Regions from separate parts of the Homo sapiens genome. Here region 2 is linked to region 1. Evidence: fine-mapped expression QTL. A gene starts in region 1. The other region holds a variant in brackets. All regions are shown on one strand. Distances are from middle to middle.

The links. PIP is the estimated chance that this variant, and not a neighbour inherited with it, causes the effect.
Region 2: its variant is the best candidate, but not a certain one, in a credible set for the expression of SUPT7L in whole blood (TOPMed, PIP 0.60).

What each region holds. Positions count from the first base shown.
Region 1 is chr2:27,661,277-27,666,538 of GRCh38, forward strand. It overlaps SUPT7L (SPT7 like, STAGA complex subunit gamma), which reads right to left and starts at 2,338. Exons shown (of 6, transcript NM_014860.3): 1 at 2,053-2,338; 2 at 903-1,005; 3 at 1-112. The coding sequence starts at 916. SLC4A1AP (solute carrier family 4 member 1 adaptor protein) reads left to right here and starts at 2,613. Exons shown (of 14, transcript NM_018158.3): 1 at 2,613-3,301; 2 at 3,824-4,019. The coding sequence starts at 2,639.
Region 2 is chr2:27,725,941-27,731,431 of GRCh38, forward strand. All of the region lies in intron 2 of LOC105374378 (a long non-coding RNA gene), which reads left to right. Among named protein-coding and RNA genes, the nearest start is that of LINC01460, 13 kb to the left of the region's middle. The variant T/C (reference allele first, on the strand shown) is at 2,851.

The sequences.
Region 1 (5,262 bases):
GGGTTGGTGCAGGGGTGGGTCATGGACTTCCACCAGACGGAACTCCCGTGGGAGCAAATCGAAGGAACTTCTGTTGGTCTGGCTTGATGATATTGGTATCTCTCCCCAGTATCTCAACATTTTGGAATAAGAAGAGAAGAGGTCTCAGGATAAATGTAGACAATAACCTAAAAGTAATGTGTTTAAATCCTGGCAACTTTAGATTATAGGCTTCTGTAGTGAAAAATACGAGGTCTAGCCAGTTATTTATGTAAAAAGTAGGCTATTTGTGACCACTTAGAAAAATGTCAGTGTCAGCAAAACTGTAGGACCAAAGGTGTTCTCCCTAAATAAATTAAGAGAAATGTAACTGTTAGATGCTGGTTATTGTCATACTATGACAATTCCTACTACACTGAACCACAGGGTAGAATTTGGGTCATTAGTGGACCAATAGCTACAACAGCATCTGGAGCTCTAGTATCCCTATTTCCCATCTCACTCACTAACTCATTACCAGAACTACCATCACGCTCAATCCTGAACAATAAGCAAGGCATGATAAGGTATCTTGATACATCTGTGCTGGATCAATAGGAGAAAAACTAGTAGGGTTAAAGATAATAAGAAGTGGTTCTTACTCTGTGTGTCTTAGGCATGATCCTGGTGGAAAAATTTATGAACCATTAATCTAAATGGCATTATGCTTTCAACTTTTGACATATAGAACGTGAGAGATTTCTGCTGCCTTCTAACTGGTATCCCTTCCTCCAATCTCTCTTTGTATGTCATCTATTCTCTACACTGCTGCTAGACTTACTCTTTTTAAAACTTAAATCAAATGGCTTCCCATTGCCTATTGGAAAAAGTCAGAATTCCTTGGCTTACCATTCAACAAAATTCACAATCTGGTTTCAACTCACCTTTGCAGATTCATTGTCCATATGTCTCTTCAAGTTCAACAAACATTTATCAAATGCCAGGCATTCTGTGTCGGTCAAAGACTGATAATGTGAGATCCTTGCCCTGAAGTGAGGAAGAGAAACAGAAGCAGAATATTTCAATATGAAACATGGTAAGTACTGTTCTAGAGGTATATGGACCTGGGGTACTGGAAGCACAAAGGAGGAGCTTCCTGGGTGAAATGACTACCTTTGTTCTAACAACATTATACTACTCAGTTTCTTGAGAATGCTGTACATTTCCACAATTGACACTTTCAGCTGTGAACTCTGCCAGAAATGCTCTGCCAACCTTGCACATCCCTGGCAGACTCATATTCATTTTTAAGTACAGCATAAGTCCCCACCGTCCGTCACTTCACCAGTGCATCTCCCTTTCTCTATTCTCACAGTGCTTTGCAAGTCTATGTCACAGCAGTTATCCTTGGATTTTAATTAGTACTTATCGCAATAGATTTTTTCTGCCCGTCTATTTCTTATGGCTGTGGTCTTGTTACAGGGCCAGGCACACAGAAATATCTGGCATTTGTTGAATGTTTACTATATGCCAGACTTCACCTTTTTTGTTTGTTTCTTTTTTGAGACAGGGTTTCACTCTGTAGCCCAGGCTGGAGTGCAGTGGTGCAGTCATGGTTCACTGCAGCCTCAACCTCCTGGGACCAAGCAATCCTCCCACCTCAGCCTCTGGAGTAGCTGGGACTACAGGCGCGCACCATCAAACCTGGATTTTTTCTTTTTTTTTTTTTTTTTTGGCGAGACAGGGTCTCGCCATGTTGCCCAGCCTCCTCTGGAACTCCTGGGCTCAAGCAATCCTCCCGCCTCAGCCTCCCAAAATGTTGGGATTACAGGCATGAGCCACCGGTCTGGCTGGCCTTTATTGTTTGATTCAATTCTTCCAACAACCCTATGAGGCTAATAATCTTATCCCCATTTTTCAGAGTGAGGGCTGAGGCCTAGTGTCTTGCCCAATGTCACAAATGGCGAGGTCAAAAATCGACAGTCTCCAGAGTCTGCTCTCTTAACCACTTAACTATTCTGCCTTAATAATTTCAGAAAAAAAATAAATGAATGAACGAAATAACAAAAAAGTCGCCCTCTTCCCTTACTTTACCGAAAGGAGCACGAAGAACAGGCACGGAGCCCAAGGAATGCCCAAGTCCCTCCAGGGGTTTCCTCGGTCACGGTCCGCCGGCGCAGGCGCCAATCACAGGGTCCTGAGGTCGCCTGACGTTCAGGGCAGCCGGAAGACGGGGAGGTCTGGACCTGAACCGAGACAAGGAGGTACCACACTATTCACTGCTGCGTCGCAGAGCGGGCTGGGCGGCTGTCTGGACCTCGAGAGGCCTGAGGCAAGGATCGCGTCAGACCCCGAAAGCTGGTTTGTTGATTAGTGATCTAAGACCGCCGGAAGCGCTTCTTCTCAATCAAGCTATGCAACAGGAAGTCATTACGATCCCGTTGTAACCTCTAAATATGTCCCCGTTCTGCACAGCATCCCGATAACCGTTTTGTTTTTCTCATATTATGACCTTCTCATGTTAGCACCACTTCGCAACGCTCCAGGTCGTGAAGGAGCAACTTCACCATCGCCGCCTACAGACGCCACTGGGAGCTTGGGAGAGTGGGACGTGGACAGGAACGTAAAGACCGAAGGGTGGGTTTCGAAGGAGCGGATTTCGAAGTTGCACCGGTTGAGGATGGCTGACATTCTCTCTCAGTCAGAGACCCTGGCGTCGCAAGACCTCAGTGGGGACTTCAAGAAGCCAGCTCTGCCGGTGTCCCCAGCGGCGCGGAGTAAGGCCCCGGCCAGCAGTTCTTCAAACCCTGAGGAGGTACAGAAGGAAGGGCCCACTGCGTTGCAGGACTCCAATTCTGGGGAGCCCGACATCCCTCCTCCTCAGCCGGACTGCGGTGATTTTAGGAGTCTACAGGAGGAGCAGTCGCGCCCCCCGACAGCGGTTTCTTCCCCTGGCGGTCCAGCCCGGGCTCCCCCCTACCAAGAGCCTCCATGGGGTGGCCCTGCCACAGCCCCCTACAGCTTAGAGACCCTGAAGGGCGGCACTATCCTTGGCACCCGTAGCTTGAAAGGGACGAGTTACTGCCTTTTCGGGAGGCTGTCTGGCTGCGACGTGTGCCTGGAGCACCCTTCGGTGTCTCGGTACCACGCAGTGCTGCAGCACAGGGCGTCCGGCCCTGACGGAGAATGCGACAGCAACGGGCCGGGCTTCTACCTCTACGATCTGGGAAGCACCCATGGCACTTTTCTCAACAAAACTCGCATCCCACCTCGCACCTACTGTCGAGTCCACGTTGGGCATGTTGTTCGCTTTGGAGGCAGCACCCGGCTCTTTATCCTGCAGGTAGGTAGAAAAACCTAGAATTGAAATTTCGGGTTCATTGGACTGCGTTCTTGTGCTTCTTAAGCTTTGGATGAGGAAGAAGAATCTCCCACTCAGCGATTACGAAAGTGAAGGAATCAAGTCTGGCCTATCATCTTCAGACGGCTGTACACATTGCTATATTTCTGAAAGTCATGTTCACAATCCCGAACTCTAAAATAACTTGTTTGGCCAGGCGCGGTGGCTCGCGCCTGTAATCCCAACACTTTGGGAGGCCCAGGCGGGAGGATCGCTTTAGCCCAGGAGTTTGAGAGGAGGCTGGGCAACATGGCAAGACCCTGTCTCTTAAAAAAAAAAAAAAAAATTAGCCAGGCATCATGGTCCCAGCTGCTCAGGAGGCTGAGGTGGGAGGATCACCTGAGCCCAGGAGGTCAAGGCTGCAGTGAGGTGTATTACAGCCACTGCACTCCAGTCCAGCCTAGGCGACAGAGCAAGACCCTGTCTCTAAATAAATAAATAACCTTTTTTTCCTTGGTTCATCAGGGACCAGAGGAAGACCGAGAGGCAGAATCCGAGTTAACAGTAACACAGTTGAAGGAATTGCGCAAGCAGCAGCAAATATTGTTGGAGAAGAAGATGCTAGGAGAAGACTCAGATGAAGAAGAGGAAATGGATACCTCTGAAAGGAAGATAAATGCTGGTAGCCAAGATGATGAGATGGGTTGCACCTGGGGAATGGGTAAGAAATTAAAATTGCTGCCGGAGGTTAATATTTTAAGTTCATTACAAGTGGTACCCTTAAATGTTTTTTTAAATCATACAGCTTTTCATGGCTCCTTGAGATAGATAGGGCAAACACAATTTGCACATGAGGTAACCAAAACCCAGAGAGATTCACTGACTTTACTGTTGTAAAGAAATTGACTTATAGGCACTTTGGATTTTTTAAAAATTTATTTTTAATGCACTCTCTTGTTCAAAACTTGTCCTAAGCATAAAATTATTATTTTTACAATTCTAAAATTTTATATTTATTAAGTACTGACCTTGTGCTATGTGATTATCATTGGAGGGGATGGAACTCTATTCAATCAAATAAATGGGATGTTATTCAATATAGGATATTCTCTTGAATTTTTTGTACTTTGTGAAGATATCCTGAAATGTGGAATATCTAATCAGATAAAGCTGGTCCCTTAGCCAAAATAATAAACTTTCTTTAACACCAGATATTTTAGAAAATGGATATTCAGGAGATGGGAGTATAAAAAGGTAGAAGATGGCATTAATATATAGTTGGGAAGATAGGAAAAATTATGAAATTACTTGTGCTAAGTGCCAAACAAAAGCTAGAAACCATAAGTATGCTAGAGTGAAAGTTTGGAGAAGAGAGAACAGTCACTGGGGACTTAGACCTGTGTTGTCTGATATGGTAGCCACTAGCCACATGTGGTTACTGAGCACTTGCAGTGTGGCTAGTTGCAATTGATGTGTGCTGTAAATGCAAAATACACACTGAATTTCAAAGACTTAGTCTGAAAAAAAGAATGTAAAATATCTCTTTCATGATATTTTTATATTGATGACATGTTGAAATGACAATAATTTTACCTGTTTCCTTTTAATTTTTTAATGTGGCTAATAGAAAATTTAAGATGACGCATACAGCTGTCATTATATTTCTGTTGGACAGCACTGACTTAGATCTTTGGGAAACTTAATTTTTTTTATTTTAGTAGAGATGGGGTTTCACCATATTGGCCAGGCTGGTCTTGAACTCCTGACCTTGTGATCCACCCCCCACCCCCCCCCCCCACCCCGCCCCCCGGCCTCCCAAAGTGTAGAGATTACAGGCGTGAGCGATCGCACTCCACAGGGAAGCTTTATGAGCATAAGGATTTTGAGCTGGAACTTGAAGGAAAGGAAAAGCCTTATGAAGCTGAGTATTGGGATTGGTATTCAGGGTAGGAATTGATGATTTT
Region 2 (5,491 bases), 65 kb after region 1:
AAATGAAAAATGTAATTTGCAGTATATAGATACAATATGGTATCACTCAAGCATAAACCAAAACCAAAACAAAACCTTGAAATAATAATATATATTTATATATGTTTATAACATATTTCTAAATATATGAAAATGCATAGAAAAGGTCTAGATTCACTAAATTACCTTGGTTATCTCTGGTGAAGCTAAGATTAGGTGTTGAGATTGAAGGAGACTGTCAGGTTTAAACTTTTTCAGTGATAACGTATTCAGGTATAATTTATGTATTTAAAATTAATTTTAAAACTTTTAAAGGAAAAAGCTATGGAAGGAAAGGCATTCTGATTTGTTCAACCCAGACCATATGACTCTTCCTAGACCAATCACTGTGGCCAAGGGGCTCCTAGGGTTCAGTGACTGGCCCAACCTGGGTTTCACACTCATTCCTGTGAACACTGGAGCAATACACAATAATTGGCACAATAATTGGCAGCTCCTTCCATAATTACAGCTGAATTGGTGAAGGAGGATTTCCCCCAAAGAAGGGAGGTGCTGTTCTGGGCAGACAAAACAATAAGTCTTCTCGATAGTGGGCTTTATCATCTTCATGGGTTTAAGTATGTGTCATCCAAGGCTGAAATACTTCGTTCAATACAGTTCTGTTACAATATATAGGATAAAAATTTGTTCTGCGCCAGGTGCGATGGCTCATGCTTGCAATCCCAGCAATTTGGGAGGCTGAGGTGGGTGGATCATTTAAGGCCAGGAGTTTGAGACCAGCCTAGCCAACATGGCGAACCCCATCTCTACTAAAAAATACAAAAAAATTAGCTGTGTGTGGTGGCGCATGGCTATAATCCCAGCTACTTGGGTGGCTGAGGCACGAAAATCACTTGAACCTGGGAAGTAGAGGTTGCAGTGAGCTGAGATTGCACCACTGTACTCCAGCCTAGGTGACAGAGTGAGACTCTACCTCAAAGAAAAAAAAAAAAAGAATTTGTTCTGCTCATTGCTATATCCCTAGAACCCAGGAAAGTTCTGGGTATATAGTAGATGCTCAGTGTAATAGACACTAGTCAAATGGCAACAGCACTACTATAGCCTATGATTTTTTTGTTTTTGTTTTTGTTTTTGTTTTTTGAGATGGAGTCTCGCTCTGTTGCCCAGGCTGGAGTGCGATGGCACAATCTCAGCTCACTGCCACCTCAGCTTCCTGGGTTCAAGTGATTCTCCTGCCTCAGCCTCCCGAGTAGCTGGGATTACAGGCATGCCCCACCATGCCTGGCTAATTTTTGTATTTTTAGTAGAGACAAGGTTTCGCCATGTTGGCCAGGCTGGTCTGGAACTCCTGACCTCAGGTGATCTGCCTGCCTCTGCCTCCCAAAGTGCTAGGACTACAGGCGTGAGCCACCGCACCCGGCTGCCTATGGAAATGCCTTATTCTGGAAACTATGACTATGAAGAGAACTATGACTCCTCCCTCAATGCTCTCAGCAGAGGCAGAGGGGAGAAAGGAAGAGGAAGTCAGACTGACAGCTCCGTTTTCCTCCCAAGGCCAATGTTCAAGTCAGATCAGGGAGTGACCATGACGCACGCCTGGGACAGCTTGACAATGATCTGGCCATGGCATGGGGTTGGGCAGGAGGAGTTGGCCCAGTTACTTTTGATTAAGTGGGGCTTCCTTCTGTGTGTTACAGCCTCATAGGTCGCTGTGGGGATGGGGCCACGACGGAAGAGAAGGTGGTAAAAAGGGCGAGTTGCCTAAGGTGAGTGACCCTTGGGTGGGTCTCCTAACTCATCTGAATCCTTTCCTCTCTGCAAAGTGAGGATATTATTATTATTATTATCATTATTATTATTTTGAGACAGAGTCTTGCTCTGTTGCACAGGCTGGAGTGCAGTGGCATGATCTCAGCTCACTGCAGCCTCTGCTTCCTGGGTTCAAGCAATTCTCCTGCCTCAGCCTCCTGAGTAGCTGGGAGGCGTATGCCACCATGCCTGGCTAATTTTTGTATTTTTAATAGAGATGTGGTTTTGCCATGTTGTCCAGGCTGGTCTCGAACTCCTGAACTCAGGTGATCTGCCTACGGCCTCCCAAAGTGGAGGATATTATTTTTAAAAAAATCTATTCCCCAGTGACCATGTCTCTCTACTATCCATTATGTCGTTGTTGTGGAAGCATCAGTTGAAACCCAGAGAGAGCTAATTTTTCTAAGGGAGCCCACCGTAGAGAAGGAAGAGCAGAATCCCAAGGCCTGAGCATTGGGGGTTCCCACAGCAGGGAAGGAAGGGCTTGTAAAGGGCACAGTAAAGGAAGAAGGGGTGACCCGAGGGGAAGAACAACAGGGAACTTGAGGCCAGGAAGGCCAAGGATGCAGAGGGTTCCAGGAAGTGGGCACTGGCAGTGTTAACACAAGTGCTATTGGATGGAGGCCTCTGGGGCTCTGGAAAGAGAATGGTTCCAGAAAACAGATGAGGCTGGAAGCCAGACTGAAAAGTGCAAAGGGGGAAACAGCTTCCAGTTCTCCCTTGAGAAATGAGAGGAGGCATTTCCCCCATGCTTGACTTCCCCGACTGTATCTAGCCTGCTGAGGTGAGGCCTGGGGAGACTAACTGGGAATCCCTACAGTCTCTCATCCTCCTCCCCTGTACTGGCCTCTGCCTGGGGGAAAGCTGGTCTGCCCCAGTTCTCCAGGCAGAGTGAGCTCAGTCATCAACCCCAGGCCTGGCCCCAGCCCTTGCTACCCCTCTCCAAGGGAATGGATTCTGCTGGGTCGTGTACCCACCCCATCCCCCTACTCCTTCCAATGGGCTGAGGTCCTACCTCAAAGGGCCTGACCAGCTGAAACCATTTTTCCCAAGCTTGGCCTT[T/C]CCAGGGAACTACATGAGCTTCCTTTAGCCAGGCCTGTACCTGCCCAGGGGCCTCTGGGTCTTGGACCATGCAATTATCCTCCCTGGGTGTCTCGCCTGCCATACAGATGCCCTCAGCCTCTGTGCCTCCTCTGCTATTGAGTTCTCAGAATCCCTTTCATCTGAGCACATTTCCTTTGTAACAGAAGGGGAGAAACAGAATGGTCTTAAGACAGCGCAAACATCAAAACATTATGCTTGTGTATATGAATTTCTACATGTTTTATATTTTGGGGTTGAGACTACTATAGATACACAATTGTGCATGTGTGTGTGTGAGTGTGTGTGTGTGTATCCTAATCATCAAATCACAAGCGTTTTCCCAGATCATAAAAAAACTGGTGAAGGCATTTTAAGGACAAGAGAGACCAGTGTAGAAACCAGTGCATATGTGTAGGCCAAGAAGAAGGTATGAGTGGACAGGAAAAGCTCAAAGGTACTAGAGGGTGACAGAGTTCAGCCAAAAGTCCAAGTGGGGGCAGCGCCTGAATGAAGGGTGTAGGGGCCCATTAGGGCTGGAGGTATCCTTGGCAGGCAGACAGGCTGACCCCTGCTTTTACTTTCACTTCCATACCAGTTCCAGTGACCCCTGGAGACCAGGCTACATTCTTCAAGTTCGATGGATTTTCTGGTTGGAGAAGCTTGAGAATTTTAATTGCTGCAACCAAACCAATTTAGTTGCTGAACCTGGGGCTGGGTTTGGCTTAGCCGAGTCTTCTATAAAGAACAAAGGGGAATGAGAGGTGTGCACGCCTGGTAGTGACTAGAAACCCAAACCAGACAGCCCCTGGACTGAGCAGATTCAGGTTACATTCTTAGACACCTCTCCTGTTCTCTCCAAACCCTGACCCCTTACTAGCCCTCTCGCTGTCCCACTTCACTCCCACAGCTGAGACCCTGCGCCAATATCCATCTCCGCCCTTTGCTGTGCTCATGACCCAGCATTTGATGAGTGTCATTCATTCATTCAACAAACATTGAGCCTCTACATCATTCATTCAACAAACATTGAGGCTCTACAGTGTGCCAGAACTATGCCTCGCTGGTGTTAAAGGCATATCCTTGGCCTTGAGAAACTTCCATCAGCCCAGCACCCAGCTCAAGGGAGCCCAGAGACCACCTAAACTTTTGTCTGGATAATAGATCCCTCTGTGAACTGATGACAGTTTTGCACACCTCTGCAGAAAAATATACACATGCACAATTGTATATTTGCATACACTTGAGGGGTGGCAGCAATCCCCTGAAGCCCATCGATGATTTAAGGATCTGTGTACCCCAAGTTACAAACACTTGATTTCATTTAACCCTCTCATATTACAGATAAGGAAACTCAGGTCTACAGAGGGAAATGACTTGTCGAAGGTCATGCTGTGGGTGAGGAGCTGAGCTAGTCCTAGAAGCCAGGACCCCTGGCTCCCCAGATGCTGCTCCACCAGGCCTCCCTGTGAGGGGCTGAGCTAGCCCTAGAAGCCAGGACCCCTGGCTCCCCAGACGCTGCTCCACCAGGCCTCCCTGCACCCTTGTCATCTGGGAAAACCTGGCGAGGGAGCTTGTGTGCCCAGGGCCAGTTTCCTTGTCAGCTGCCAAGCCTAGGACTGCCAAGCCTAGTCCCTTCTCTACCACTCCCTGGTTTCTCCGGGACAGGGGACAGTGGTCAGGAGCTTTCTGAACACTTGCTGTGACCTTGACCATTCCAACCAGTTCCCCCCAGACATCAAGGGAAATGTTCTAGAGGAAACAGGATGTGTTTTCCTGCAAAATCATTTGTCTCATAAGGTGATTTGCATACTGGTGGGGACACAAATGTCATTCCCTGCCCATTTCCTCCCTAGAGAAAAGGGTTTCCATCACAGCTTTCTCCTCAAGAGAGAAGGCAGCTGTATGGGCCCGGTCCCAGCCCTGAGGATGCCTTCCTGACAGTGGGGAGGAGGGACGGGATGTTAGTTAGGGTCTCCCCAGAAGTGGTTGGTAAGCAGGCTCCTTTCTTGACCCCTCCCCAAGTCTCAGGGTTTGGCTGGAAGCTCCCCAGCTCCAGCTCTGACAAACAACCCGCTCCTGCAAACCAGGGATCTAGGCAGCCCACCTTGCTCTTAAACTTCCTTGGGGTTAAATTACAGAAGATTCAGCTGCTAGAAGAGATAGTTGAGGTGATGGTAGATGACAAATAACAACAAATACTTAGTGCTTACTGTGTGCCAGACATTGCTGTAAGCATGTTACATGCACTGTAAATTAATTTAATCCTTACAGCAACCCAGAGAGATTGGTTCTATTATTTTTCCCACCGTTTGCAGGAGGAATCAGGGTTCAGAGAGGTTAAGTAACTTGCCCAAGGTCACACAGCTGAACAGCTGATAGTTGCACAGACAGGGTTTGAACTCAGCCGATCTGGCTCCAAAGTCTGGGAATCTAAATACTGTGTTATGAGAGGAAGCACTGGAAGGTTCGTGATCTGTTGTAACCCTTGAAGACTGCACAGTACTCAGAAATATTGGCATGCCATTTAAGGCCCCTTAGGATCTGGTCCTAGCTACGCTGCTATTCCATCCTGCCTCCTGCTATGATCCACTTACTGAAACAGGCCATAAACATGCCCCAG